Linked DNA regions of Homo sapiens: region 2 is linked to region 1. Evidence: fine-mapped expression QTL. A gene starts in region 1. The other region holds a variant in brackets. All regions are shown on one strand. Distances are from middle to middle.

Region 1 (15,336 bases):
TTTCTATCCATTGACTCCAGCTCCTCTCCTTAGGGACATGTGGAACAAATAAAAACCTCTTATATGTGGCCCCTTCAGAAATCTGAATGAAGTGACAATATCCTTCCTGAGTTTGTTTGCCTTGTTTTGCTAAATATATGTTCCAAGTGCCTTTAACATTTTGTTGTTGTTGTTGCTGTTAGATCTCTCTTTTCTGCATATTCAAGATGATCTATATGTCGTGTAGCTATCCCAGAGCTAGATTAATTTCAGGTGTGCTCTGGTCAGCACAGAACAGAATGAGATAGTCATCTTCCTTGTGTTCTGCACACTATACTTCTCATAATGCAACCTAAGATTATATCAGCTTTTTTTGGCAGCCACACACACTGTTGACTCACATTGAGCTTCTAGTCAACTCAATACCCCTAATTCAGCCACACGTACTGCTGCTAGGCCCAATGCATACTTCTGCAATTGTTTTAGCGGGGAGGAAGTGGTAAAGAGAAAGATTTATCACATTGATACTTCATGAAATTTGGGGCCCAAAAATTCAACCTGGGATTTTGCATTCCTGTCATACATAAGCCTATGCTTAGTTTGCTATCCTAAATGATTAGACAAACTAGTGATGAGTCATGGACTGGAGTTCAGCTTAGGCTAGTCAGCTTTGCTTTGTTTCATGGTCTCATGCAGCCTTCTCAAAATTACCGATCTTTCAAATGTATGCTATTTATCCCGAGAAGAACTGGTGGAAAGACTATAAATGATTCAATGCAAAGCCATTATCACCACTGAAAAAAACAACGCAAAGATAAGTATCCAGTACATTAAAGATGGTATATTTATAATTTGCCATGGAAGAATTATATCTAAACACCTTCTCCTTGATTAAAAATAGCATCTATAGAGATAATGCTATATAGATTTTCAAAGATATTTCAACTTAGCTTATTCCATTCCTTCAAGAAAGTGGGGAAGGTATCATTATCCTCATTTCTAGTTCAGTTCAGTCCTTATTGTACCCATGGTATTCCAACACAAGTGAGACCCACCCCATGTGATTAAGGCACTCATATCCAGGGTGTTCTCATTTCTAGTCCAGTTCAGTCCTTATGGGACCCATGGTATTCCCACACAAGTGAGACCCAGTCCGTGTGATTAAGGCACTCTTATCCAGGGCGTTCTCCTGTAAGTGTCAGGCAACATCTGCTCTGCTTGCCCTTGCCATCTGGATTTTAAAAAGGATCTCATACTCCGTTAATCATAAAATCATAGAATCTATGAGAATTAGTCTAATATCTTTGAAGATTAGGAAGAGGTATCAAATAATGCACCTAAAGTTTCAGTTACCTAATAGTAAAACCAGGATTAGAACATATTTATATTCTAACCAGTATTCAGACCAATCTTCTTTCTCTTACACTACTATTTCTCAAGATACAAGTAGGTAACTGTCTGTTATCTACAGCAAGGACATTTCTGAAAATGGGATCTGAGATACACATTCTCTGCAACTCAAGAATGTTATGGCTAAGGATCCCACCAAACTCCTAATCCAAGGGAATATGGGCCAGGAAGCTAATCAGAGAGGGATGAACCATGAGATGCTGAACCAGCGACTTCCCAGTAAACAGATTTGTGCTATATGAAGCAGCTCCCCCAATATCTACCATTGTTAGAGCCACTTGAGGATTTAGACCACTTGTGTTCTAGATAACCAGGGTGCAGAGACAGCTAGAAGTCATGTTGAAAGGAAATAATTATAAATCTGCTACAGCCAAAGGTGGTCTTTTTCAAAAGCAGGCTAAATAAGCCGCTGAGTTAATATAGCTAAAGGAACCCGGTAAGTGACTATGATTGCATCAGTGCACTCCAGCCTGGGCAACAAATTGAGACCTTGTCTCTAAATATTTATCAATACTGATATGGTGTCCAATTTGATTCAACAATCATTTATTGAGTGCCAGTTATATGCAAATCACTGTAGACTCAAAGACATGCCATTCCTTTATCCTTAAGAAACAACAGATTCAGGTTGGACATGGTGGCTCATGCCTATAATGCCTATAATCCCAGCACTTTGGGAGGCCAAGGCAGGAGGACTGCTTGAGCCTTGGAGTTCAAGACCAGCCTGAGCAACATAATGAGACCCTGTCTCCAAAAAACAAAAAACAAAACAAAACAAAAAAAAGGGCATGGTGGCTCGTGCCTGTGGTCTACTTGGGAGGCTGAGCTGCAAGGACCGCATGAACCCAGGAGGTTGAGGCTACAGTGAGCCATGATTGTGCCAATGCATTCCAGCTTGGGCGACAGAGTGAGAGACCCCACCTCTAAAAATAATTAATAATAATGACAATAATGTTTATTTCAAAATAGCCACAAAGAAGTGATAAATATTTGAGGTGATGGATATGCTAATTGGCCTGATTTGATCATTCCGCAATGTATACATGTATCAAAACATCACATTGTGCCCCATAAATATATACAATTATTATTTGTCAATTAAAAATAAAATTTTAAAAACACTTTAGAGGTTTAATATGAATAAAGAAGGTTTACTATGAGTAAAGCAGAGCTGGTCATGAGAGGAGAAGAAACCCACAACAAAAACAAGGGACAAAAAGGAGGCTGCTAAAATGGGGGCCGTAAAACCTTATTTGTCACAATTTTGGCTGGGTTGGCCTTGCTCTGCTGCAAAATCCATTTTTGGTAAGTTTGGGTGGGCTACTCCAAGACTTTTTCATGTGAGACACTTAAGTCTACATAAGGATAAAAAACAATAAAAAATGCTAGTGAAAAAAGAATTGTGACTTCTGGGCTAAGGAATGCAATGTAGGGACAAATTAACCCAGAAATTGGGTTTTAGAATGTTGCTTAGAAATTGGGTCACCTCAGATCTTTTTTCCCTTGACTATAAGTAAAATATTGGCTCTTACAGTTTCTTTCCAGTAAATACCATGTTTAACTTGGAAATCTGACAAATACCAAAAACCCTATCCCCTTACCTCACAGTATTATTGGATGATCAAATGCGACAAGATGACGCAAAAGCCTTTTGTGTGTTGTAAAGTGCTAAATGAGGGCATAAACAGCCCCTCTGGGTCATAGGAGAAGACTGGTGGGATCTCCATGTCATGGCCCTTATTAGAATTGTTCACCATTGATCATCATAACATTTTAGTCCTTCAAATGTAAATGAGTAAAAATAGTACCTTACTATATGATCCAGCAATTCCACTGCTGGGTATATACACAAAAGAAAGGAAATCAGTGTATCTAAGGGATATCTGCACTCGCATCCCATGTTTGTTGCAGCACTGTTCACAATTGCCAAGATTTGGAAGCAACCTAAATGTCCATCAACAGATGAATGGATAAAGAAAATGTGGTACATATACACAATGGAGTACTATTCAGCCATAAAAAGGAATGAGATCCTGTCATTTGCAACAACATGGATGGAGCTGGAGGTCATTAAGTGAAATAAGCCAGGCACAGAAAGACAAACCACATGTTCTCACTTATTTGTGGGAGCTAAAAATTAAAACAACTGAACTCATGCAGATGGAGAGTAGAAGGATGGTTGCCAGAGGCTGGGAAGGGTAGTTGAGGATGGGGGAAAAGTGCAGATGGTTAATAGGTACAAAAAGTAGTTAGAAAGAATGAGTAAGATCTAGTGTTTGATAGCAGAACAGGGTGACTATAGTCAATAATTTAATTGTACATTTAAAAATAACTATGAGTATAATTGGATTGTTTGTAACACAAAGAATAAATGCTTGAGGGGATGGATACCCCACTTACTATGATGTGATTATTACACACTGCATGTCTGTATCAAAGCATCTCATGCACCCCACAAATATATATACCTACTATGTCCTCACAAAAATTAAAAATAAAAAAATTTAATTACCTATACACATTACTTTTTAAAAAGTACTTTAAATACCTTCCCTAAGGATTGAAATAAACACATATTGTGAATTTAAAAGTAATACCTAAAAACAGACACTAATACTTTTTTTTTGAGACGGAGTCTCGCCCAGGCTAGAGTGCAGTGGTGCAATCTCAGCTCACTGCAAGCTCCATCTCCTGGGTTCATGCCATTCTCCTGTCTCAGCCTCCTGAGTAGCTGGGACTACAGGCACCCGCCACCACGCCCAGCTAATTTTTTGTATTTTTTAGTAGAGACGAGGTTTCACCGTACTAGCGAGGATGGTCTCGATCTCCTGACCTCGTGATCCACCCGCCTCGGCCTCCCAAAGTGCTGGGATTACAGGCATGAGCCACCGCTCCCAGCCCCACTAATACATTTTTAAAAATAAGCTCCTTCTGCAGAACCAGCTTCTATAATGAAACTGTTTTCTCACAAATAAGCATATAGAGGAATTTATACATGGCTAGATTATTAGAATCATATTTTATTAGAATTAGGACAAGACTTACATCATCTCTATAGACTGTCTCACCAGTTCCCTCCCCTCCCTTTTTTTTGTTTTGTTTTGTTTGAGACGGAGTCTTGCTCTGTTGCCCAGGCTGGACTGCAGTGGCACGATCTCAGCTAACTGCAACGTCTACCTCCCAGGCTCAAGTGATCCTCCTGCCTGAGCCTCCCAGTAGCTGGAATTACAGGCACGCACCACCATCCCCAGCTAATTTTTGTATTTTTAGTAGAAAATGGGGTTTTGCCATGTTGGCCAGGCTGGTCTCCAACTCCTGACCTCAAGTGATCCACCCACCTCGGCCTCCCAAAGTGCTGGGATTACAGGCCTGAGCCACCGTGCCTGGCCCCTATCTTTTTTATAACAGGAAAACTGAGGTTAAAGTAGAACCCAGACTAAACTGCAGGTTTTCTGACTCCTGTTCTAAGTCTCTTTTCTTCTATAATTTTTTAAAAAAATATTTCAAACATAAAGAAAAGTATTGGTAATAATAAGCACCCAGATTTTTTAAATGTTAATATTGTCATATGTCTCAGATCTCTTAAAAAGAATTAAAACATTATCTATCAACAGATAATTCCCATTCTTCTATTTCATTCCCCTATCTCTCTCTCCAGAGGTATCCATCATGTTGAAGTTGTGTGTATTCTGTCCTTCCTGCCCATGTTTGTATACACTTACCAAATTATGGGTTATATATCCTTAAACCACACCATGTTGCCAGAGAAAGAGTTGTTCTTCCAAACAAGGAAGAATCCCTCACTCTAGTATGCTTCATGCAGTTATAACCTTTTGGGTTGGTGGGATATTTCAGAAAGAAACTAGGGCAAAGCCTTAAGTCTTTTTAAATGATTACCACAGAGCCGGGCGCAGTGGCTCACGCTTGTAATCCCCACACTTTGGGAGGCTGAGGTGGGCAGATCACCTAAGCTCAGGAGTTTCAGACCAGCCTGGCCAACGTGGTAAAACCCCATCTCTACTAAAAATACAAAAATTAGGCGGGCGTGGTGGCGTGTGCCTGTAATCCCAGCTACTCTGGAGGCTGAGGCACAAGAATCACTTGAACCCAGAAGGTGGAGGTTTCAGTGAGCTGAGATTGCTCCACTGCACTCCAGCCTGGGTGACAGAGGGAGACTCCAACTCAAAAAAAAAAGCAAAAAACAAAATGATTACCACAGAAAGAGCTAGTGAAGTGTCTTGCTATCATTCAGAGTAAAAAGTAAATTGGGCAAATATAAACATTTTTAATACAACTTTTTAAATCCTAAGTTTTATTTATGAAACACTGGTTTACAATGAACAAGTACGAATGACCTGTCACTGAACAATAGGGAAAGATGAACTAAACAATTTAACTAGTAATAATAGCTTCTACTACTGCTTCGAGGTCCAGCTCAGTGTTATCACCTTAATGAATTTGTCCATGATCCCAGAGTTGATTCCTTCAATAATCATTTATTGAGTGCTAAAGTCCTCTGGATACAAAAGTAGATCCGGTCCATTTTCTGAGGACAGCACAGAAATAACTACACAATACTGTTTAATAAATGTAACAAGAGAACTATCTATGAAGGCCTGGGGGAGCCTAACTTTTTCTGGGACAATTGGAGAAGTCTTTACAGAAGTGATGTTTCAACTGCATGGTGGAGGATGAGAAGGCGGTCACAAAATGAAGGATGAAAGGTGATTCCAGGTAGGGATACACTGAATGAGAGGGTACAAAGGATGGTAAGATACTAGTTTTAGAAAGACAACTAAGGATAGACATTGGAGGTGGAGAGACAAGTTACAAGACTGGCAACAATTCAAGCAAAAGATGACAGGAGGCAGACATGAGGAGGGAGGAGGAAGGATATGAACAAAATCCAGGAGATAAATTTAGCAGAACTTGATGCCTGATTGTATTGAGGAAAGAAAGAACATGGAGGAGTTGCAGATGACTCTCAAAAACTTGGCAAATCAGTGGGTGGTGAGGCCATTACTGAAATAGGGAATACAGTGCAGAAGATAAGAGGCTGGGCGCGGTGGCTCATGCCTGTAATCCCAGCACTTCAGGAGGCTGAGGCAGGCGGATCACCTGAGGTCAGGAGTTCAAGACCAGACTGACCAACATGGTGAAACCCCATCTCTACTAAAAATACAAAAAATTGGCTGGGTGTGATGACACACGCCTGTAATCCCAGCTACTCGGGAGGCTGAGGCAGGAGAATCGCTTGAACCTGGGAGGCGGAGGTTGCAGTGAGCCAAAATCGCACCATTGCACTGCAGCCTGGGCGACAAAAGCGAAACTCTGTAACAACAACAACAACAACAACAAAAGAAGATAAGAGCCTGCTTGAGAAAGGAGGTGAAAGTTCATTCAGTTTGAAGCATTTTGAGTTGGCTTTGAAGCCTCTTCCATGAGACCTCCAACAATTTCTCTAAGCCAGAAATCACCTCTTTGCACTCCATAGTATCTTTTTCATCTCAAATTATTTAAATCTGCTGTATTTACAAGTTTGTCTTTCCTTTTTTTTTTTTTTTTTTTTTTTTTGAGACGGAGTTTTGCTCTTGTTGCCCAGGCTGGAGTACAATGGCACGATCTCAGCTCGCTGCAACCTCCGCCTCCCCTCCTGGGTTCAAGCGATTCTCCTGCCTCAGCCTCCCGAGTAGCTGGGATTACAGGCATGCGCCACCATGCCCGGCAAATTTTTGTATTTTTAGTAGAGACGGGGTTTCACCATGTTGGTCAGGCTGGTCTCGAACTCCTGACCACAGGTGATCTGCCCGCCTCGGCCTCCCAAAGTGCTGGGATTACAGGTGTGAGCCAACGTGCCCAGCCGTCTTTACTTTAAATCACAAAGAAAAGGTACTAGGTCTTATCTGTCTTTATATGGCTCTCTTAGCAGTGCCTTACACATAGAAAGTCCTCAGAGTTTGCACTCTTGAGAAGGCAGCTCCATCAGATACTAGAAACCGTCAGCTAACATTTATCAAAACAAGGAACAAAACTTGTGAATTAGCAGCTGAAACAAAATACCTGAAGTATAATATTTTTAATGTTAGTAGCTGATTCTAGATATAAATTAGCTCCCTTTGTGCTCATTTTACTTGCCTCTTTTTTTTTTTTCTTTGAGATTGCGTCTCACTCTGTTGCCCAGGCTGAAGTGCAGTGTTAAGATCATAGCTAGGGAGCCTCGAACTCCTGGGCTCAAGCGATCCTCTCACCTCTGCCTCCCAAGAAGCAGGTGCGCACCACCATGATAGGCTAATTTGTAAAACATTATTTTGTAGATACAGGGTCTTGCTGTGTTACCCAGGCTGGTCTGGAGTTCCTGGCCTCAAACAATACCCCTTTCTAGGCCTCCCAAAGTGCTGGGTTTACAGGCATGAGCCACCGTGCTGGCCTTTTCTGACTTTTAAACAACCCCGCAGCGTAATCTTTGCATTCCTATTTTACAGATAAAGCAACAGAAGCCTCCAGCGACTAAGTTAAACTTTCCTGGGGTCACAAGGTTTACAAGTGGCTGAATAGGATTTCTACAGACTGGTTCCTTCACCCGGCTGCCCGCCGAAGTAAGCGGGCCTTACTGCCCTAATTCTCAATAGGACCCCAAAGAGGACGCTTCTTTGCTCCTGAAGGGATGGCACCCTCTGGATTCGCGGTAACAGCAAATGGGGCTCTCACTCCTACCATCTCAGTGACAGTTTAAAGCGCACCCTACCGCAGGAAAGTGCCCATATTTGCACACACGCGGCAGAGGGCAGGGCTGAAAAGGGGCCCTAGGGTGCAGGGGGCGCGCCCTCACCCGGGGACCCCGCATTTTACAATATTAGCTCCACCGAGGCGCACGGAACCGCAGGCGAGCAACTGACCTTCGGCTCCAGCGGCCCCAAAGCCGGGGGTGGGAACGCGCGACCCAGGTAGCGGCATGGACTCCGAGCCTGGCCCCTCGGGGGTTAAAACTCCCCAGACATAAAGGCTCCGGACGACAGAGGTGCAGCCGCCGCGTGCCCGTGGGACACTGAAACTCTTCCCTTACCTTCCTCGGTAGTCCTGTGAGGGAGGCTGGCCCGGCCGGCTGCCCTACGGTGCGGACAGGAGGTCGCGGTCGGGAGGGGCCCTGCCCGGCGGTTGCTGCTGGAACCAGCCCCCGCAAGGGCCCGCAGCGGCCGGGCCGTTTACCTCAGACCCGCGCCGCAGCCTCCCGGAGCCCGCGCCCAGGACTCCCTCACGACCTCTCCAGGGTCCCGGCCCGACACCAAGGGGCAGGTGAGGGGTGGAACCTGGAGGCACCCGCGCCAGGGCCCCTGAGGGAGGCGGGAGGGGGACAGCCTCAGTCCTGACTCGCAGCCGAGGCGCGACGACTCCGCGCAGTCCCGCCTGTGGAGGGGCGTGCCTCATCGCTTGCTAACCGAGAGGCGAAGGGCAAGGGGCGAAGGGCAAGCGCCGGATCCTTTCGCCCCCTCCCCACGTGAGGCCCTGGAGGCTGATTGGCCGTGTGCTGCGGAGGCGGCAAGAGGAACGTGTCCTGGCACGTGCCGAAGGAGCGCTAAAGGCCAGGGGCGGTCCCACCCGCGAAGCCCTGGAAGGCGGATTGGCTGCGCGAGGAAGTGGCGTGTCCTCACTTGAGCTGTCTGGGAGCGAGAGTAAGAGATAAAGGCAAGGGCGCCTGACCGGGCCTGGGCACCTCCTCCCACTGCGGGCAAAGGGCAGGCAGTTCGTGCGCGGACACAAGCACTGGCGGACCGTGGCCATGGCGGGCGCTGAGTGGAAGTCGCTGGAGGAATGCTTGGAGAAGCACCTGCCGCTCCCCGACTTGCAGGAAGTGAAGCGCGTTCTCTATGGCAAGGAACTCAGGTCCGCAGCCAAGAGGCTAAGCTAATGGGGTCTTGGGGCCACAGAGTGTGGGTCTGGGGGAGCAGGCAGGGAGGGCCTCAGGGTCTGAAGGGCTCAGGGGAGGCGGTGAGAAGTCCTGAGTTGGCGGGCAGAGACCATAGTAGGTCTTGATGGGACGGCCCCGGGGTCCTTGGGGGTTGCAGAATCCTGGCGTGACCTTTACAAATCTCTTCTCCCCCACGTTGCCCAGAACCGGAAGGAAAAGGACGGGATTTTACTCTCCAGGGCTTTCTCTGTGGCCATCCCAACCCTCCTCCCCGGAGCCGGGCTTGTCTTCTGGATGTCTGGCTGGATCACTGTCTCCAACCAGAGCACCCAGCAGGTGTACTGATTGTCCGGCCCCAGACCATCCTTCTTGCGGTGACCCGACCTCTGGCTGACCCTTGGAAATAGAGGCTGTCTGCATTTAGTTGGCGAGGGAACCTTTCCCACTGGCAAGCCATGGGCGCTGGTTTTTCCACTCCCTGCAAGCTTGTGCATCACCAGGACTTTCTGAGGGCTGTATACTGCTGGACACTGTGTCCACAAAGCTGAAAAAGACACTTCCTGGCCGGGCTCACACCTGTAATCTCAGCACTTTGGGAGGCCAGGGCTGGAAGATTGCTTGAACTCAGGAGTTCGAGACCGGCCTGGGCAACATAGTGAGACACCCATCTCTATAAAGCATTTAAAAAAATAGCCAAGCATGGTAGCATGCATCTGTAGTCCTAGCTACATGGCAGGCTGAGGCGGGAGGATCACTTGAGCTTGGGAGGTCGAGGCTGCAGTGAGCCAAAATCTCTCCTCTGCACTCCAGCCTGGGAGTCAGAGTGAGGCCCTGTCTCAAACACACACACACACACACACACACACACACATACACACACACACACACACACACGTCTTTGGATTTGGAGCTTACTTGGATAATCCCGGATGATCTTATCTTGAGATCCTGACCTTAATTACGTCTGTGAAGACCCTTTTTCCAAATAAAATCACAATGACAGGTTCCAGGTGTCAGGATGGAGACACAGCTCAACCTGCTACAGTAGCTTCAGGGTCTGCAGGTGGAAATAACTCAGGGGCTATTTGCTATGTGGAGGTGGGCCTCAGGTGGGCGAGGCTGGGCTTGTTGAGCTGCCCTGGAGATGGTCATTCCAGGTGAAGGAGGAGCAGGTACAAAAGAGGGCGCTGGAGAGAATGCTGGAAAACCTGGATATTCAAGGGGTCAGAGAAAGAGACTTTGTGGGAGATTCTGGAGGTGAGGACTCTGGGGCAGGACAGGAAAGAAGCATCAGATGGCTCAGAAATGTCTAGCGGGTGAGGACAGCAGGAAGTCTGCTGGATTTAGCCATGATAAGGCTGTTGGCAGTTCCTGAGATGGGGCCAGGAGGTAAGGCCTGAGCTGAGGGGAAGCATGTGTGGAAGCTCCCTAGGCAGCAGGGAGAGACAGCAAGTGAGTAAACACATGGACATATGTGGAACACTGTCCCTCTTTCTCTTTCTTCCTCACCTTCTCTCCCCCCTATCTCCCTTCTGTTTTTCAACGGGAGAGACTCTTTAACAGCTTCAGTGATGGATGTGGAGGTCTGTAGGTACTAGTGGAGAAAGATGTCCAAGCTATGTGTATTAAGTGAAAAAGGCAAGTTGAAGAACAGAAAATACAGAATGATACCATTGTATTTGTAATGCATACACGTAGGAAAATAGGAAAGAGACATAAAACATTGTTAAGAGGGGTTGCCTCTGAGTTTTGGGACTAGGGGTGGGGTAGAAAGGGGAATGTATGTTTCATTTTATACCCTTTCCCACTATTTGATTCACCCCCGCCATGAGCACATGTCTCTTTTGTAACAGAGCTCTAGTTTAATGATTTAAAGTGCTGGTGGTAAAGAGCCATCAGACATGGAAAGATGAAGTTCCAGAAGTGAGAGGTTGCTGAGGAGGCAGGAACTTGGTGTCCTCTGGCAAGGTCTGCCTGACCCTGGGTGGGAGAGGTGGGGGCCCTGAAGGGCATGGTGGGGCTAGGATGGGAAGTGAAGGGCTTTACTCCTTGAAGTTTGAAGGGAAGCCCTGAGTGGGGAGGCCTCAGTAGCAGGGTGAGGGGTAGAGGGTCTGAAAGCCAACTACAGGGACCAGGGCAGGCAGTGGCAGCAGGAGGCCGTCTGTGAGGTTATGGCTCATTTGCTGGTCTTGTCCTCCTGGGCAGTGGCTGATTGATGTTTTAGTACTTTTGGGCTACTATAACAGAATACCAGACTTCCCTGTACTTGTGGGCAATCACAGGGAGAAAAAGGAGAAGGGTCTGTGTGTCTGTTTCCCCAAAGGTCTGTGGGCCTGGTAGCTGGACAGCCCTTTGGGAACGTCCTAGTGAACACTGTCCTCAGCCTGTGGTCTCACACCAGGAAGAAGTCAGGTGGCAGAGCTCTTGTCTGAGTGTGCAACCCTGGCTGTAACCAACATCTGGCTGCGGTCTCTTTCCCCATCTTAAACCACATGAATTTATTCCTCACAGTTCTGAATGCTATGAAGTCCAAGATCAAGGTGCCACAGCAGATCTGGTGTCTGTTGAGGGCCCACTTTCTGGTTTTTGATGGTGCCTTCTCACTGTGTTCTTACATGGTGCAGGAAGCAAGCATGCCCTCTTGGTCTTTTAAAAGGACTCTACCCTCATGACCTAATCACCTCTGAAAGAGCCCTATCACATTGGAGATTAGGATTTCAACATATGAATTTGGGGCAGACATAAGCATTCAGTCTGTCTCAGTGTTCCACTGCATCTCCTGTACCAGGCCTTTCGGTGGGCACAGCACATGGTCATTGACTGCGTCTACACAGGGTATGGCTTGAGGATTGGTTAGGTTCTCCAAGATGAAGCTGTGTAGGATGTGGTAATGCACCGCCTTTGATAATGGGAGGGCAGAGAGGCCTTACAGGTACTGCCCAGATAGTAGACAGGAGTGGCTGGGAGGAGGTAGAGCCCCAAAGGTGGCTGTCCTGGAGGGTGGAGCGGCCTCTCCTGTATTACCTTGGCTTAGAATGAGCTCGCAGGGAGCTGGGGATAAGGAGGTGGGCAGCCTCAGGGCTGGCTAGGCGGAGGCATCACTTGGGGGAAGAAGGGTAGGTAATGGAGGTTGTGCATGGTGGGAAGATGAGGAGAGAGACTTCAGCCAGGTGGTGGTTACAGCCATGTTTCCACACCCAAGACGAGCTCTTCACCTGACATTTTCCTGGTGTGAGACCACAGGCTGAGAGGCCAGGCAGGGTTCACCAGGACACTCTGAAAGAGCTGTCTGGCTCCCAGGCCCACAGGCCTTCGAGGGAATAGACACATAAGCCTTGCTCCTTTTTCTCCTGGTGTCTGCCCACACCCATATCCTGGAAAGCTGCGTGATTTATGTCCACCAGAGGGGATTTGCTCTGAGGCTGTGGCCTGCAGGAGCGCCCTTCCGCTGGAGGGTGGGAGGACTGTCTAAGGCAGTCACAGCAAGGAGAGGCACGGTGTGGGCACTGCTGCTATTTCTAACCTGCTGGAGTGAAGGGAACCTTGACTACTTGAAAAGCAGGCTGATTGTCAGGGGCGGAACCGAACTCAGAGCTGTCAGGGCCGTCACATGGAAAGTGCCTGGCAGGGGGCGGCGACAGGGGGCTTGGGCTGACAGGGCTGTGATTTTGAAAGAAACGTCTCCAAGAAAGTGATTTAAAGTAGGAGAGAAATATTATTATTAGATAATGGCTGTCAGGTTATTTTTTGATGTGTTTTCTGAGTATTTCATAATCATCTTGCGCTTAGATGGTAAGCCCTTCCTGGCTAGGGGCCGTGTCCCATCCCATGCCTCTGTGGCTTTCACCTTCGGGTGTGCAACAGGTATCAGGAGGTATTTGCTGTTTGGCTAATGGTCACTTCAGTGGAAGGTTTTATAACTAATTCTCTAGCCTTGGTTAATAAACTACAAATGTGGATGAGCACTTAGGGCTTCCATCTGAACACCTGGGCCCCTCCAAGCCCACCCAACACCAGATGTAGAACTGGCCTCCCCCAGCAGGAGCAGCAGGACAGAGTGGCCAGGGTCTTTATTCACCATAAGGCCATCCATGTGATCCCAGGTCATGGCCTCTCCATCCAACCTGTCTCCTGAGCCCCATTTTCCAAGCCCCTCGGCTCCCACAGCCTGCCTCACACCCTAGGCTCAGCATAGCCCTGATTCTGGTTCAGAAACACTTTTGAGAATCTGTTCCCTCCTTTCTGTGCTGACTGCCAGGACTTTAATTCCTACCGTGATTTCAGCAACTCTAAAACACCAACCTCTTAACTGGCCTCCCCATTGCCAGGCCTAACCGTGCTGACTCTGCTGAGGTCTCCCTGCCAATTGCAGGTAAAGTCCAGGTTCAGTGTAGTGTTCTGTCATGGCTGGACCCCACTGCTCGCCAGCTCCCTTGGGCCCTGGCACTGAGCGCCTTCTAGCCAGGACATCCTCACCTCTTTGGCTGATAAATAGCTACAAGAAATGGGAGAGAGATTTTAAGTGGAGCAGACTGCATCAAAATCCCCTTCCCTCTTTTTTCCTGCCCATCTAGGAAGCTTGATCTGCCCAGGGAAGCTTTCGAAGCTGCCTCCAGAGAAGACTTTGAACTGCAGGGATATGCCTTTGAAGCAGCGGAGGAGCAGCTGAGACGACCCCGCATTGTGCACGTGGGGCTGGTTCAGAACAGAATCCCCCTCCCCGCAAATGCCCCTGTGGCAGAACAGGTGCAGACTCTTTTGACCATAATAAATACACAAACAGGGTTGTGGCCTGCCCTTGGAGCACACCTGCAGGCCCTGGCTGGCCGCATACTCCGGGTCTGCAGGCTTGGGCGCCTCAAGCAGTAGCAGAGGCGCTTCTGCCCTGGCCTCCCCACATCCCTCCAGCCTGCATCTCTGGCTCTTCTGTCTTCCTGTTCTTATTCTGTCTCTCCCTCCTCCTCACTGATCTTTCCACTTCTCTCCAGCTATTGATCTGAAGCTCCATTTACCAACCGGGAGGGTGCCCTTTTGGCCTGCTCGTGCTCTCCACGGGACGCTGCCTCTCAGCTGCCTGCCAGGAGGCGGCCAGCCAGCACACGCTGGTTGGGACCGTCTGTCCGTGTGTTCTTCTGCCTTAATCCTCAGGGCGGGGACTCGCTATACCCAGAAGTCTGTCAGTTGTGGTGCCTACAGGATTACGGGAATAGATAGGCATTCGCTTATGACCTCAGAGTTAGTAAATAAAGGTGACAGCATCTTGTATCTCCCTAAAGAAACATGTTGTCACAGGCGCAGGTGGTTTGCTTTATACACTTCTCCACAGCATTCCTCCAGCTGCTCAAACTTTCAGGGATTTTCCTGCACAGGTTTCCTCAGGATACGGCGTGTTTGAGGATTCTTAGGGATTCTGGAGAAACCTAAGGCCTCTTGGATTCCAGGTTTGGTTCTGCATCATCATTCACATTGGTCCTTCCTTTGCTTTTGTTGGATTCACAGATGTCTGGTTCTCAGTTCTCTCACTTTTTGTATCAGGATTTGTTTTTTGTGGATATGTCCCCTCTATCATCCCAGACTGTCAAGTCATAGGACCAGCTATGTTTTTTTCACGTGCACAGGGCCTAGAAGTATGCTTTGCGTTTTGCTAACACCAAGCAAATGTGTGTTTGCGGGGCTGATGCTGTCAGCAAATATCCACAAAGCCATGGGGTGCACAGCCTCTCAAAGGAGGAGACTATAGGCCTTGTGGAGAGTTTGTGCGCTCTGGGTTTTCAGCCTGGTTCCTTTGGTCTGTCTTTGAACAAACGCTTTTGAATGTCTCCTGGGAGCCAGGCATTGTGCCAAGGACAAGCAGACAATGAGGATGCTTTCTTCCTATCCCCAAGGAGCCTGTGGGGTCCTGGGAGTGACAGACAGCAGAGGAAGAGTGGCACACAAAGCAGTGGCACACAATGGCTCCCGAAGGCCAGGGGATGCTGAGTTACCTTGACACTTGGCCCATAGCTGTGAGAGCCTGCAGAGGCCCACAGAGGGGTGACATG
Region 2 (16,132 bases), 20 kb before region 1:
CACTTCAGTGAGCTTGAAACTGGATTCTTCTCTACCCTCTGATGAGCCTTTAGGCTGAGAGCTTAACTAAAACCTCATGAAAGACTGAGCCAGAGGCACCTGGCTGAGCTACACCTGGATTCTTGACCCATAGAAACTGTTGGATAATAAATGTTTATTGTTTTAGGCCACTAAGTTTTAAGGTAATTTGTCATGGAAGAATAGACACTAGGCTACGCGTGGCAGCTCACACCTGTAATCCTACCACTTTGGGAGGCTGACGCAGGAGGATCCTTTGAGCCCAGGAATTCAAGACCAGCCTGGGCAACACAGTAAGACCCTGTCTCTATAAAAAAAAAAAAAAAATAGACAACTAAAACACAAAGTGGAGCAATATGTTACACAGCAATAGATAACTGATAGACAAGACCAGTTCAAGTTGCTCCCCTGAATTTTCCTTGACCTAGCTTAGCCCAGAGCAACCTCTGCCTAATGTGAACTTGATGTAGAGCTGTTCTTCTCATTGGTCATTTTGCACAAGGGCAACATTAGTTATCTTCTATCCTCTGTGTCTCTTGTCTTTTCCAAGTAACCTGAGGTCAGTAGCTGCTTAAATTTCTTGTATGTCTCTGGAGAAAGTGTTTGTGCAAGTAGAGAAAGCGGTAGGCTTTGAGAGGCTAGAACTGCGTCTGAAGGGTCTTTTCATTCATGTTTGGTGACTGACTGAAAAATGACTTGTTGGTGGGAAATTGAAGTGTATGTTAGAAGAGGGACCACAGCTTAGGAAGAGCTGATTTTTGATCTTCATCAAAATGAGGCTTCAGTGGCAAATACTAACAGCCAATCCTCCTTGTAAATTCTGTTGATTTCCTTCTTATTGTGTAAGGAGTTTAGCCTTCTGTTGGCAGTTGTGTTGTGACAAGCAGCAGAGAGGGGGTGGCTCTGGGACACTGGGGTCACTTCAGAGGAAGGGAAGTTGATTGTCTTCTCAGGGCCCCTTCTCTCACATTTATTCTTTCCAGGGCCTCTGCAGCAGGACTGTGCTGAAGCCCATTTCCTACACGTAGCACCATTTATTTAAAACACACACTACATATACACAACAGACCAAATGCAAAGGAAAAAAGGGGAAAAAGGCTGCTGAAGACCAGAGTCACTAAAAGTTCAGGCTAAGAATAGACAAGGAACTCTGAGAGCTGCTCAGCTATGTGACCTCCTGCAGGGGCTTGGCAAGAAGCCCAATTCAGCTTTGTTTTTTCTGTGCTTTTACAAAGAAAGAGCACTAGCTTGGGAGTCAGGAGACCTAGGTACCAGACTTTGCTTTGCCAGTGCCTCTTTCTGTGGCCTTGGGTAAGTTTTTCCCCTCTCTGGGCCTCAGTTTCCCATTTGCAAAATAAAAGTGTTTAAGACTAGGTTCCAAGATTTTCCAATTCTAATGCTGAGAGGATACAGAGGAAAACAGAAAGAATGCTGGCTGAGGAACCAGGAGACTTGCCTTCTTGTCCCAGCTCTGCCACTGACCTGACCTCTTTGGGCCTCTGCTTCCTCATCTATAAAATAAGGTACTATATTCATTCATCCAGTCCTTCAACGAATATTTCTTGAGCACCTACTATGTGCCAGGCTTGGTGCTGGAGATACGATGATGAGTCAAGCCAGACAGTCTATGTTCTCATGGAATTTCTAGTCTATTGGGGGTGGAAGGGAGGAGGAGAAGATGAACTGTAATCAAACAATCACATAAATGAAGGTGTAATTAATGCCAGGGTAAGAAAAACAGGGAAGGGTCACACTTGGTTCTCAGCAACTGAGGGATAGCCACAATGTCCACCAATTCCAATGTTCTGTGACCTAGTATGTAGCTCTGCGGGGAGGTGCAGAGAAGCCTTTGGAATAACTCATATCTAAAATCATAGGGTTTTTTTGTTTGTTTGTTCGTTTGTTTTCAGAACGGCACAGCTCAATTAATCCAAGCAACCAACAACCATCTATTGGGGACCTTCTAGCAGGAATCAGTCACCTACCTCTGGCCTCTCTGGTGCTTTACACTAGTGGGCAGAATGGACTCATAAATGGACACAGCTATAAAATGCCTCACATCATTCTCTGATGGCTAATTATATGTTTCAAATACTAATGTGTCTAAGAATTAGGTGAGAATTGGATGTGGTAGGACAATCAGAGAAATTTTCTCACAAGTAGAAATTGAGATAGGCTCTGAAGGCTTGCTGCATAGTTTCAGATAAACAGAAACAATAATATCAGGGCACAGTGGGCCCATTCCCTCCTACTAGACAGTACAGGTGCATGGGACATACGAGAGATATCTGGCCGGGTGTGGTGGCTCACACCTGTAATCCCAGCACTTTGGGAGGCCGAGGCAGGTGGATCATGAGGTCAGGAGATCAAGACCATCCTGGCTAACACGGTGAAACCCTGTCTCTACTAAAAATACAAAAAATTAGCCAGGCGTGGTGGCAGGCACCTATAGTCCCAGCTACTTGGGAGGCTGAGGCAGGAGAATGGTGTGAACCCAGGAGGCAGAGCTTGCAGTGAGCCGAGATAGCGCCACTGCACTCCAGCCTGGGCTACAGAGCGAGACTCCGTCTCAAAAAAAAAAAAGAGATGTCTCAAGTAAGAGACTCCTAAATTTCATTTTGGGGCAGGAGAGATTCAAACCCTACTTGTTTTGTCAAAGAGCAAAAGACCTCTTCTGTGACCTACTCTAAATCCCGTCCCTTGGATTAGGAGGCCTGCTACTGATGGGATTCCTAACTTGGGGTAGCCATCTCACCTCAATGAATCTGTTATCCTGTAAAATGAAGGGGTTAGATGATACCCAAAATCCCTTATAACACCCAGAAAGATGGCTAAAACTTCATTCTTTGTAAGAATTTTTATTACTTTATAATAAAACTGATGGTTGCTACTATGGAGTATGAGCTGTGCGATCTTAGGCAAATTACTAAGTTTTCAAAACCTGTTATACTTTCTTTTTAAAATTTATTTTAATTTTTAAATATTTTATTTTCTTTTATATTTTTGAAACAGGGTCTTGCTCTATTGCCCAGGCTGGAGTGCAATGGCACAATCACAGCTCACTGCAGCCTTAAACTCCTGGGCTCAAGCAATCCCCTCACCTCGGCCTCCCGAGTAGCTGGGACTACAGGCATGTGCCACCAAGCCTGGATAATATAAAAATTTTTTTTTGCAGCAATGAGGTCTTGTTATGTTGCCTAGGCTTGCTATGTTGCTAGGGTTAAAATGGCCAATTTTACGTTATATATATATTTAAACCATAATCTTTAAAAGTAATATACCAAAAGTAATTCACTCATATAAAGTGAATTATACACTTTAAATGAGTGAATTATATGGTTTGTGAATTACACCTCAGTAAGAGGATATTCTCCATCCCAACCTAAACTTCTGTCCCCTCCTCAGAGGCAACTATTTGTTTCTTAGCTTTCTTTCTAGAAAGATTCTAGGCATAAACAAGTACATCTTAAAATCTATCATACTTTTTCTTTTCATACAAATGAAAGGAAGTGATATACCATTTTATACTCTGCTTTTTTTTTACTTAATATCTCTTAGGTTGTTGTGTATCAGCACATGCAGATTTACTGCATTCTCTTTTTTTTTTTTTTTTTTTGAGAAGGAGTTTCGCTCTGTCACCCAGGCTGGAGTGCAGTGGCACGATATTGACTCACTGCAAGCTCCGCCTCCCAGGTTCATGCCATTCTCCTGCCTCAGCCTCCCGAGTAGCTGGGACTACAGGCACCCACCACCACGCTCGGCTAATTTTTTTGTATTTTTAGTAGAGACCAGGCTTCACCATGTTGGCCAGGCTGGTCTCAATCTCCTGACCTCGTGATCCGCCCGCCTCAGCCTCCCAAAGTGCTGGGATTACAGGCATGAGCCACCGCGCCCAGCCTCGATTTACTGCATTCTTTTCCACTTCTACATAGAAGCCCACTGGAGGGACCTATCACACTTTATTTAATGAGTTATCTTATTGATGAATATCTTGTTTCTAGTCTTTTTTTTTTTTTTGAGAAAGGGTCTCGCTGTATCACCCAGGCTGGACTGCAGTGGCATGATAATGGTTCACTGCAGCCTCCAACTCCCGGGGCTCAAGCAATCCTTTTGCCTCAGCCCCTAAAGTAGCTTGAACCACAGACAGGTGCCACTATGTCTGGTTATTTATATATTTGGTAGAGATGGACTCTCACTATGTTGCCCAGGCTGGTCTTGAGCTCCTGAGCTCAAGTGATCCTCCTGCCTTGGCGTCCCAAAGTGCTGGGATTATAGGCACGAGCCACCATGCCTGGTACCCATGGTTTTAGGCAGACACATGAATACATCATCTATAGGATAAATTCCTAGTTCTGGTGTTGCAGGGTCCAAAGGTTAGCACATGTTAAGTATTACTATTGCCAAAATGACTTCCTTAGAATCTATACCAATTTACACTCCTAACAAGAATTCATTCACTCACTTTTTTCATTCAACCAATATTGAGTACCTATCATGAACCATGCACAATTCTAGGTCCTGGGGACACAGCAAATGAACAATAACAACAGGAATAAAAAGATAAAAATCCATTCCCTAATGGAGCTTACACTCTCACAGAAGGAGAGGGCAACCCAAAAAGTAAAATATGTAACATCTTAGATGGTAATAAACGCTATGGTTGGCCGGGCGCAGTGGCTCACGCCTGTAATCCCAGCACTTTGGGAGGCTGAAACGGGCGGATCACGAGGTCAGGAGATCGAGACCATCCTGGCTAACACGGTGAAGCCCCATCTCTACTAAAAATACAAAAAAATTAGCCAGCTGTGGTGGTGGGTGCCTGTAGTCCCAGCTACTCAGGAGGCTGAGGCAGGAGAATGGCATGAACCCAGGAGGCAGAGCTTGCAGTGAGCTTGCGCTGGGCGACAGAGCGAGACTCCATCTCAAAAAAAAAAAACTGCTATGGCTAAAATAAGGCAGAGAAAGGAGTGCTGGCCATGGGTAAGGGCTAGTAATTTAAACGGGATGGTTAGGGTATAAAAATTCTAAGCCTCAGCTTCCTTATCTGTGAAGCAGGACAACAATAGTACCTATGCTGGCCAGGGGCTGTGGCTCATGCCTGTAATCACCGCACTTTGGGAGGCTGAGGCAAGCGGATCGTTCGAGGCCAGGAGTTCAAGACCAGCCTGGCCAACATGGTGAAACCCCATCTCTACTAAAAATACAAAAATTAGCCGGGCATGGTGGTGCATGCTTGTAATCCCAGCTACTTGGGAGGCTGAGGCAGGGAAATTGCTTGAACCCAGAGGCAGAGGATGCAGTGAGCCAAGACAGCACTACTGCACTCCAGCCTGGGTGACAGAGCAAGATTCCATATAAAAAAAAGTACCCATGCCATAGGATTGTTGAAGGAATTCAATGATACTATATCTGGTATACAGTAAAAATTTCCTAAATGAAAGCTATTCTTATTATAAACAACTTTACAGCTAAGGAAAGTGTGGCCCAGGGATGAACAATTTGCCTATGGTCTCAGGGAAAATTAGTGGTTGGGTAAGAGCTAAAACCAGGCCTCCTGACCCTCCATGCAGTACACTTCCAAATATATCAAGGGACCAAAAGCATTAAGATGCCATCCTACTGGGGCTGCTAACGGGCAACGTGGTTTTAGCTTCAAGAGTGCTCTGAGAATGTGATTTTCAACATGCAAAAGAGGGGAAGGGAGATGAGAGAGTACACAAGGTTCATTAAGGAGAAGCAGGCCAACTTCACTCAGGCCTAAGGCTGAGCCTGCTGGGGTTTGCTCACAAGACATTCAGATCCAGGATAGTGTTCTCAGCCAAAGGCAACAAGCGTTCTGGCTGCTGCTCGCCCATCTGCTCTGATGAGACTCTCCCAAACCCTGGACTCCCATTGGTTTCATTCCAAGGAATCTCCTGGAGGAAAGATAAGCAGCAGTTAAGTCACAGCTGTAGAAATAATAAGATCTGGAGGGGCACTTATATCTGTTTGGCCGAGTTAGATTTTCAAGCAGGCCAAGTATGTGGTGATGGTGGTCTCTCAACTCTCTCTGTGCCTTTTCCTCACCCCATGGCACCTCCTCTCCCTGTCCACAGCCAGATACTATTTCCCTAGGCCTTCTGCCTACCCAGAGCCCTTTCCTTGTGTGGGTTCTATCCTTCCTTTAGCCCTATCCTTTCTTCAGTGAGCGTTTCATTCCCTCCATTCCTCCTAACCCCTACTTCGGAAATACATATTTTTAAAAAGGTGACACTTACTGGCTTAACAGTGTCACTATGGAACAGGATTCAGGGAAGTCAGTGTTCTGGGCTTGACCTCTGTTAATGTGTAGGTCCCTATATGACCTTGGGAAAACCAATTACCTTTTCTGGGCTTCAATTTCTTCATCTAAAAAATGTATTTCGGCTGGGCGCAGTGGCTCATGCCTGTAATCCCAGCACTTTGGGAGGCCAAGGTGGGTGGATCACCAGAGGTCAGGAGTTCAAGACCAGCCTGGCCAACATGGTGAAACCCCATCTCTACTAAAAATACAAAAACTAGCCAGGCGTGGTGGCTCACATCTGTAGTCCCAGCTACTCGGGAGGCTGAGGCAAGAGAATCGCTTGAACTTGGGAGGCGGAGGTTGCAGTGAGCCAAGATCACGCCATTGTACTCAAGCCTGGGCAACACAATGAGACTCGGTCTCAAAAAAAAAAAAAAAAAAAAAAAAAAAAAGTATATCATGGCTGGGCATGGTGGCTCACGGCTGTAATCCCAGCTGTTTCGGAAGCCAAGGTGGAAGGATCCCTTGAGGCCAAGAGTTCAAGACCACCCTGGTCAACATAGCAAGACCCTGTCTCTACAAAAAAGAAAAAAAATTAGGCATGGTGGTTGTGCGTTTGTAGTCCCACCTACTCAAGAGGCTGAGGTGAGAAACTTGCTTGAGCCTAGGAGTTTAAGGTTTCAATGAGCTATGATTGTGCCCACTGCACTCTAACCTGGGCAACAGAGGGAGGAGACCCTGTCCCAAAAAAAAATTTGTTTTAAGATGTATATCATGGCATTTCAAGTACCACAGTGTAGATTTTTCTGCCAAGGGCAGATCCCAATGATCCACCTGAAGACAAAAAGGTATACAGAGAAGTAGGAGGGCCAAAGGGAGAAACATTCAGAGTTGAGGTGCCAAGGCCACTAAAATGCTATTAAAAGGGGTGTAATAAAAACCAATATTTGTTGAATGGCATCCAGTATCCAGTCCTGGGGCAGCCATAAGGAAATTCATACCTGGGCGAGAGATTTAGGTTTAAAATCGATTCTTGTATTGGGTAGACCTCAATGCAGGGGAAATTCCAGACCAGCTTTGGACCATGGCAACTCTACTCTTAAGAAGGGGAACATAAGAAAGAAAAGGTACTTTGTCCCAGATCACTAGCCCCTCAGTTACTTGAACATCATGGTGTAGATCTGGCTGTGAGATTTCTCTGCAAGGCTAGAAAGAGGAAGATTGAGAAACATTCAAACAGATTGATAAAAAGGGTTCTTGAACTCAAATTTGAGGAAGTGACCTAAGATTTCAAAAGATGTTAGAATTATAAGCAAATTATGTGGATGTTTCCACTTCTGTTTAATCTGTGGACAATTACATTAACAGATGGAGCTTCTGCTGGGGCAATCTGAGAAAACTTAAAAAAAAAATCTCAGTGACTATCACTAATGTTATCTTTCAAGCTGACATCCATGATCTTATTTTTTATTTTATTTTTTGAGATGGAATTTCACTCTTGTTGCCCAGGCTGGAGTGCAATGGCGCAATCTCGGCTCACTGTAACATCCGCCTCCCAGGTTCAGTGATTCTCCTGCCTCAGCCTCCTGAGTAGCTGGGATTACAGGCATGCGCCACCATGCCCGGCTAATTTTGTATTCTTAATAGAGATGGGGTTTCTGCCATGTTGGCCAGGCTGGTCTTGAACTCCCAACCACAGGTGATCCACCCATCTCGGCCTCCCAAACTGCTGGGATTACAGGCATGAGCCAGCACGCCCGGCCATCATCCATAATCTTAATTTCATCCACAGAGAAAGGTAGAGAGCAGCAAGGGGAATTGAGACATGAGATTCTGAACTCTGAAATAATCTA[T/A]GATAGTCACTACATCATTGTTCCTGCCTGGAAAAACAATCCAGACCCCAAACTTTTCTTCTTTGATGCCCTGCAGTGGGGTTGACAATAAACTCTCACAGGCTTGAGCCTTGTGGCATCATCAGTACAGCAGAAACAGTTGCAGACATTTTGGGTGAAAAATCAACCAAGCCTGCTTAAATCCCTCTGCCTGCTGGGACAAAAATATGGTCAGACTTCCAGAGTCAGCAGTGCATCCTAGCAGAGAAACACTGAAGGAGAGATGGCACTGTTTTCACGGAGTCTTCAGTGACTTTCCACTGAGCTGTGGGAAAATCTGACAGTTGACTGTAGCTGAGTCATAACCCAGAGGTCCTGACCACTCAGATATTTGAAGATTCCTTTCATTCCTTTCCCAAACGGGGAACCTGGCAAACTCCAATTGGTTAATTCCATTTACCTCCTGTTCCTTGCAACTATATGTAGGTATAGAGTAGTGTGCTCTCAGCGGTAGCAAAAGGGTATCAGAATAACAGCATATACACTTTGTAATTATAATAGCTTATATTTATCTTCTACTTACTGTGTGTCGGGCACTTTCTATAGATTTTTTTTTCATTGAATCTTTAAAACTGTTCAGCAGTATATTTACTATTATTATCCCCAGTCTACAGATGAAGAAACTGAGGCTCAGAGAGGCTAATAACTTGCCCACAGTCACATACCTTTGGTGTGAGTTGCTGAGGTTTAACCTAAACATTCTAACTCCAGAGTTTGTGCTCTAGCCACTATGCTATACTGTAGCCAAACACCAGCATGGATATCCCAAGCTCAAAGGCACTTCAAATACCACAAATCAATCAATTTTCCAGCTGAGAAAACAGGCCTAGGGAGATTATAGGAATTACCTAGTGATAGAGTCAGGGTTCCAGGCAGATCTCTTCACTCCAGAGTTCTACACTCTCTCCACTGCATCAGAATACTTCAGGTTCGTAGACAAGCATGTGGTGCACACTTGTAGTCCCCGCTATGATCGCACCACTGCACTCCCGCCTGGGTGACAGAGTGAAATCCTACCTCTAAAAAAAATAATAAAATAGAAAAAGAATGCTTTGGGTGCTCTCCATCATCTTGAGAATCTAGAGCTTTTCTATATCTTATCCCTTATTCTTTAGGGAATGGAACTTAATTTTATGTAAACATAAAATATTTTCACATAGTTTTTCTACAATATACTGATTTCCCAATCCTTCCCCCCTCAACTTTTTTACATAGACTTTTTTTGAAATGGCATCTTACTCTGTCATCCAGGCTGAAGTGCATGGCTCAATTTCAGCTCACTGCAACCTCCACCTCCAGGGCTCAGGTGATCCTCCACTACAGCCTTCTGAGTAGCTGGGGCTATAGGCACACACCACCATGCCCAGCTAATTTTGTGTTTTTCTGTAGGATGGAGTTTCACCATGTGGTCCAGGGTGGTCTCAAACTCCTAGGCTCAAGCATTCCACCTGCCTCGGCCTCCCAAAGTGCTGGAATTACAAGCATGAGCCACTGTGTCCGGCCTATGTAGACTTTTAAAGGGCATTTTAAGTTCACAGCAAAAGTGAGTGGAACACATAGAGCTATCCCACAGACCCCCTGCCTCCACACACAGCCTCCCCTGCTACCAACATCCAGCACCAGAGTGGTGCATTTGTTACAACCAGTGAACCAACACTGACACGTCATTATCACCCGAAGTCCATATGTTTGGATTAGGGTTCACTCTTGGTGTTGTATATTCTATGGATTTTAGCAAATGTATAATGACATGTATCTATCATTATGGTATCATATAGTATAGTTTCGCTGCCCTAAAAATCCCATCTGGTCTATTTATTCATCTCTTCCTCCTAAAGCCCCTGACACCCAGTGATCATTTTACTATCTCCATAGTTTTGTCTTTTCCAGAATTACATATAGTTGGGATCATATAATATACAGCCTTTCAAATTATTTCATTTAATAATAAGCATTTAAGGTTCTTCCATGTCTTTTCATGGATTGATAGCTTGTTTCTTTTTAGCACTGAATAATATTGCATTATATGGATGTACCATACAGTTTATTTACTCATTTATCTACAGAAGGACATATTGGTTGCTTCCAAGTTTTAGCAACTGTGAATAATGCTGCCATAAACACTCATGTGCAGGTTTCTGTGTAGACATAAGTTTTCAACTCCTCTGACTAAATACAAAAGGACAATTGCTAGACCATATGGCAAGAGTAGGTTTAATTTTATACAAAACTGTCAAACTCTCCCAAAGTAGCTGTACTGTTTTGACTCCCACCAGCAATGAATGGGAGTTCCTGTTGCTCCACATCCTCATCACCATTTGGTGTTGTCAATGTTTTAGATTCTAATAGGTGTACGGTAGGATCTCGTTGTTTTAATTTGCAATTCCCTAATGATGCATGATTTTAAGCATTTTTTCCTATGCTTATTTGCCATCTTCTTTGGTGGGTGTCCATTCAAATTTTTTGCCCATTTTTTTTTAAGAGATGGGGTCTCACTATGCTGCCCAGGCTAGTCTCAAACTCCCAGCCTCAAGTGATCCTCCCACCTCAGCTCCCCCAAGTGCTGGAATTACAGGTGTGAGCACAAGCCTGGTCACCCTTTTTTTTTTTTTTTTTTTTTTGAGACAGAGTCTTGCTCTGTCGCCCAGGCTGGAGTGCAGTGGCGTATCTCAGCTCACTGCAACCTCCACCTCTAGGGTTCAAGTGATTCTCCTGCCTCAGCCTCCCATGTAGCTGGGATTACAGGTGTGTGCCACCACACCCAGCTAATATTTTTGCATTTTTAGTATAGATGGGGTTTCACTATGTTGGCCAGCTGGTCTCAAACTCCTGGACTCAAGCAATCCACCTGCCTCAGCCTCCCAAAGTGCTGGGATTACAGGCGTGAGACACCATACCCAGCCTTCAGCTATGATTTCTTTTTCTTTCTTTTTTTTTTTTTTTTTTTTGAGACAGAGGCTCACTCTGTCGCCCAGGCTAGAGTGCAGTGGTGCGATCTCAGCTCACTGCAACCTCCGCCTCCCAGGTTCAAGCGATTCTTCTGCCCCAGCCTCCTGAGTAGCTGGGATTACAGACAAGTGCCACCATGCCCAGCTAATTTTTTGTATCTTTAGTAGAGACGGGGTTTCACCATGTTGGCCAGGCTGGTCTCGAACTCCTGACCTCGTGATCCACTTGCCTTGGCCTCGCAAAGTGCTGGGATTACAGGTGTGAGCCACTGTGCCTGTCCCCAGCTATGATTTCTAGTAGTCAATTATTGAGTGTTTCCTGATCTCTGCATAATGCCCTCCTCTACCCCTCCCTCTTAGGAAATGACCAGCTAAGGCTCCAGTATGCTCCCTCAGTTCTCACTTCTAGGGAGGCTTTCCATCTCTAGGTCTTACCTGTGTAGTTTATTCTTTATATCCTGCCTCCTGTCATGGGGACAGTGTCCCTATTCCTCTCATGCAGTTTGTCCACAGTGACCTTGGCCCCACTAACCTTTCCAGCCTCTTCTGTATCCAGACCAACTTCACTTTCTTTAGTGAAGGATTAGAGATGGATAACAGCCTGGAAATGGCCACGTGTAGTGGAAAGGGTTTAGTCTTAGTCAAACAATTCTTGACTCCTCTGGGCAAGTTAGTTAACCATGCTGAGTCTCATGCCCAGTGGATAGGACACCCCTGCTTATAAGGTGATAATGAAGATTAAACACAAAATCATGTAAAGGGGTTAGCCCATATCCTAGAACACTACAGATACTGATTTCTCTCTCTCTTCTGGCCTTTTTCCCACTTCTCACAAGAAATGTTCAAGAAAGCTTCATTTTTAAAAAGCCCAGGCCAGGCGCAGTGGCTCACACCTGTAATCCCAGCACTTTGCGAGGCCAAGGCAAGTGGATCACGAGGTCAGGAGTTCGAGACCAGCCTGGCCAACATGGTGAAACCCCGTCTCTACTAAAGATACAAAAAATTAGCTGGGCATGGTGGCACTTGTCTGTAATCCCAGCTACTCAGGAGGCTGGGGCAGAAGAATCGCTTGAACCTGGGAGGCGGAGGTTGCAGTGAGCTGAGATCGCACCACTGCACTCTAGCCTGTGTGACAGAGTGAGCCTCTGTCTCAAAAAAAAAAAAAAAAAGAAAGAAAGAAAAAGAAATCATAGCTGAAGGCTGGGTATGGTGTCTCACGCCTGTAATCCCAGCACTTTGGGAGGCTGAGGCAGGTGGATTGCTTGAGTCCAGGAGTTTGAGACCAGCTGGCCAACATAGTGAAACCCCATCTATACTAAAAATGCAAAAATATTAGCTGGGTGTGGTGGCACACACCTGTAATCCCAGCTACTTGGGAGGCTGAGGCAGGAGAATCACTTGAACCCTAGAGGTGGAGGTTGCAGTGAGCTGAGATGCGCCACTGCACTCCAGCCTGGGCGACAGAGCAAGACACTGTCTCAAAAAAAAAAAAAAAAAAAGGCCCTATTTCATCTTCAAAGACCCTTTCTTGCCCTCTATTCAATTCATTCTGATCGCTATTTATTGAGCCAGGGACCACCTTTTCAATACTCTCTCAAACGCTGAATTCAACACATAATGGCAAATTGGTCTCACTGCAGCATTAATATTGCTGGACACTGACACTGGGGGCCTGCTGATTCCTGCATCTCCTCTAACTTCTCTGAACATTTCTGTCTCAGGTACTTTATACTTCTCATCTTTCCACATCCTGATCTCTTCTATTCCCATGGCTTCAACAACCACTATTTGCTAAAATTTCCAGTTTTTTCTCTCTCTAGTCCAAATTCCAATCCTTAGGCCCCAGACCTGAATTTCCAGCCATTCACAGGGATCTCCTTCTGGAGGTCCCAGGGGCATCTTAATCTCCAAACTGGCTTTTTCTCCTCATGGCTCTTATTTCCTAAATGGCTTATATTATTAAACCAATACTCAGACAAGAGGCCAGAATCATCCTGAACATCCTTGTCTTCTACACCTCATATTCTATGTTGGAGCCATCACAATCCCTTTGATTTTCATTTCCACAGTGCTTCTTGAATCCATCCCCACTCTATTTCTAGGGCTTTAGTTCAGTCCTTTATCATGTCTCACCTCAGATATTGCTGCAGACTGGGAGCCCTTATTGCCAGGCACTCACCCTGCTCATACTCTGCTTAGAGCCCAGATTTATGTAATTAATAGATCTGAGAATATTAATCATCTGCTACAAAGTCTTCCATAGCACTAAGTGAAATACTAAATACTAGTATCTTTAGCTCGCATTAGGATGGAGGTGCCTCAACACTATTAAAGACCTTGTCTTATTAATTATTATATCCCATGACATAATATTGTACATTAAATATTCATTAAGAAATGCTTATTAAATTAATGAATAAAAGCCCAGAACTATGCCATGTATAGTAGGGCATATGAAAGAAATATAGGATGGTCCCTGTCCTCTAGGAGCTTACACTCTTACTGGAGAGACAAGATAAAAACAAGAAACTGGGCCAGGCACAGTGGCTCATGCCTGTAATCCCAGCACTTTGGGAGGCTGAGGCGGGCAGATCACTTGAGTCCAGGAGCTCGAGACTAGCCTGGGCAACATAGCGAAACCTGTCTCTACTAGAAATACAAAAATTAGCCAGGCGTGGTGGCACACGCCTGTAGTCCCAGCTACTTGGGAGGTTGAGGAGGAAAAATGGCTTGAGCCCAGGAGACAGAGGTTGCAGGGAGCCGAGACAGCATCACTGCACTCCAGCTTAGACGACAGAATGAGACCCTATCTCCAAAAAAAAAAATAAGGAAAAAAGGAGTTTGCCTAAAATAAGAAAGCAGTAATTTTTTTTTTTTTTTTTTTGAGACAGAGTCTAGCTCTGTCACCCAGGCTGGAGTGCAGTGGCATGATCTTGGCTCACTGCAAGCTCCGCCTCCCGGGTTCACGCTATTCTCCTGCCTCAGCCTCCTGAGTAGCTGGGACTACAGGCACCTGCCACCATGCCCTGCTAATTTTTTGTATTTTTAGTAGAGATGGGGTTTCACCATGTTAGCCAGGATGGTCTCGATCCATGATCCACCCACCTCGGCCTCCCAAAGTGCTGGGATTTCAGGCATGAGCCACTGCGCCCAGCCAGAAAGCAGTAACTTTTTTTGAGTGCTATAATAACACCAAAGTGGCCAGGTGTGGTGGCTCATGCTTGTAATCCCAGCATTTTGGGAGGCCTAGGCAGGCGATCACTTGAGGTCAGGAATTCAAGACCAGCCTGGCCAACATGGTGAAACACCATCTCTACTAAAAATACAAAAAATTAGCTGGGCCTGGTGGCACACGCCTGTAATCCCAGCTACTCAGGAGGCTGAGGTAGGAGAATTGCTTGAACCTGGGGGGCAGAGGTTGCAGTGAGCTGAGATGATGCCATTGCACTCCAGCCTGGGCAACAGAGCAAGACTTTGTCTCAAAAAAAAAAAAAAAGTGAACATATACAAAAGCTATAATAGAAAAACTACCTTTTGATACACATATATACATACTCTTTTAATGAAGCAATCCTTTGAGAAAGATATTATTATCCCCACTTCACAGACAAAGAAACTTTGGCACAGAGCCATTAAAGAACTTGTTTGAAGTGACACAGCTACATGCAAGACCCTGTACTAAGCACTACTGACACAGATTAATAAAATAGTTCATGCTTTCAAATATCTCAAAATCGAATCAAAAATTCTGAAACTAAATGATTCTCTCATAAACAATTACCTATACATCAATGTCGGGTATTGTAATAAATATACACATAAGATGGGAGTGTTATTTTAGGAATATTAAGCTTAAACTATTACGCTGAAAAGGCTCTACTAGAAGACAAACACACTGAAATAGGAGAAATTAGCTTCCTAGCTAATACAGCTTCTTTGCTAATACAATGACGCAGGCAAGATCCAGGCAGGCAGGTGATGATGGTGGATGCAGTAAGACTGGAGAAGGGGCAGGATGCAAGACAGTTCACAAACAGGAATGACAGTAAAAGTTTAATGTAAGAACAAAGAATCAGGCTTAAGTTTTTAAGTCTTGGAAACTCAAGGATATTAGCAAAGACAAAGATACATTTATTTTAAGGTATGGTATACTGAGCTGAAGACTGCTTTGCTCTGAGAGAATATAATATAATATAGATTCAGAAATGAGACTTTACAAATCATTAGCAACCAGGCTTGAGTTGTATCTAAAGAAAGAATTTAAAAATATTTCAATTAGGCTCTGTGTCAGTGGGATGGCCTCTACATGTTTTCTTTGGTTTTATTTTCTCCTCACTCTCCACTGGTCTCTATTATCAATTCTGTTTGCAGCACCTTTTCCACGGAAATGAAGTGTGATTATAAAGTAACAATGCTGAAGTTTAAGCATACAAGAATTTATCCAAAACTGATTCCAAAAATGTTGTTTTTGCTTTAACACTTTTCTGGAACTTCTGTGTTGGAGTTGCTTTCAGAGTCCATCTACAATCCCAACAAGGAAGCCAATTATTTCACAGTCATACTTTATTTGTGAACACCTCTAACCTGATCATCCATTAACTTAGCTCAGAGTTAATTTCTGTTTTTTCAAAAGTAAAATCTACCCTCGAAAAAAAAAAACACAGATTTCTTGAGTAACCAACACTAAGGTTATTCCAGGGGTTGTGCTCCTTAGGCAACTTCATGAGAGGCTTTCCTGTAGGGGAGACATGGAGAATTAACATGTCTGAGCCCTTACTGAGAGCTGGGCATTGGACTGCTAATTATTTCCCAGACCTGCTTTTCATGTAATCCTTGAAGCAACCATTCAAGCAAGTACTGTCATCTCATGATAAAGAATAAAAGAAAGTTCAAAAAAGTAACTTATATAACTAATACATAGCAGAGTTAGAACTTTAAAAACACAATTTTGCTACTGTACCATGCTGCTTCTAATAAAATAAGAACACCGCTTCCCAATGAACAGAAAAATG

Evidence for each region. PIP is the estimated chance that this variant, and not a neighbour inherited with it, causes the effect.
Region 2: its variant is fine-mapped to the expression of UPB1 in whole blood (INTERVAL, PIP 0.97).

What each region holds. Positions count from the first base shown.
Region 1 is chr22:24,486,238-24,501,573 of GRCh38, forward strand. UPB1 (beta-ureidopropionase 1) reads left to right here and starts at 9,095. Exons shown (of 10, transcript NM_016327.3): 1 at 9,095-9,270; 2 at 13,870-14,041. The coding sequence starts at 9,167. It overlaps ADORA2A-AS1 (ADORA2A antisense RNA 1), which reads right to left and starts at 8,837. Exons shown (of 7, transcript NR_028484.3): 1 at 8,453-8,837.
Region 2 is chr22:24,465,963-24,482,094 of GRCh38, forward strand. ADORA2A-AS1 (ADORA2A antisense RNA 1) reads right to left here. Exons shown (of 7, transcript NR_028484.3): 2 at 9,021-9,191; 3 at 5,806-5,933. Among named protein-coding and RNA genes, the nearest start is that of ADORA2A-AS1, 21 kb to the right of the region's middle. RefSeq lists a silencer at 13,572-13,759. The variant T/A (reference allele first, on the strand shown) is at 8,134.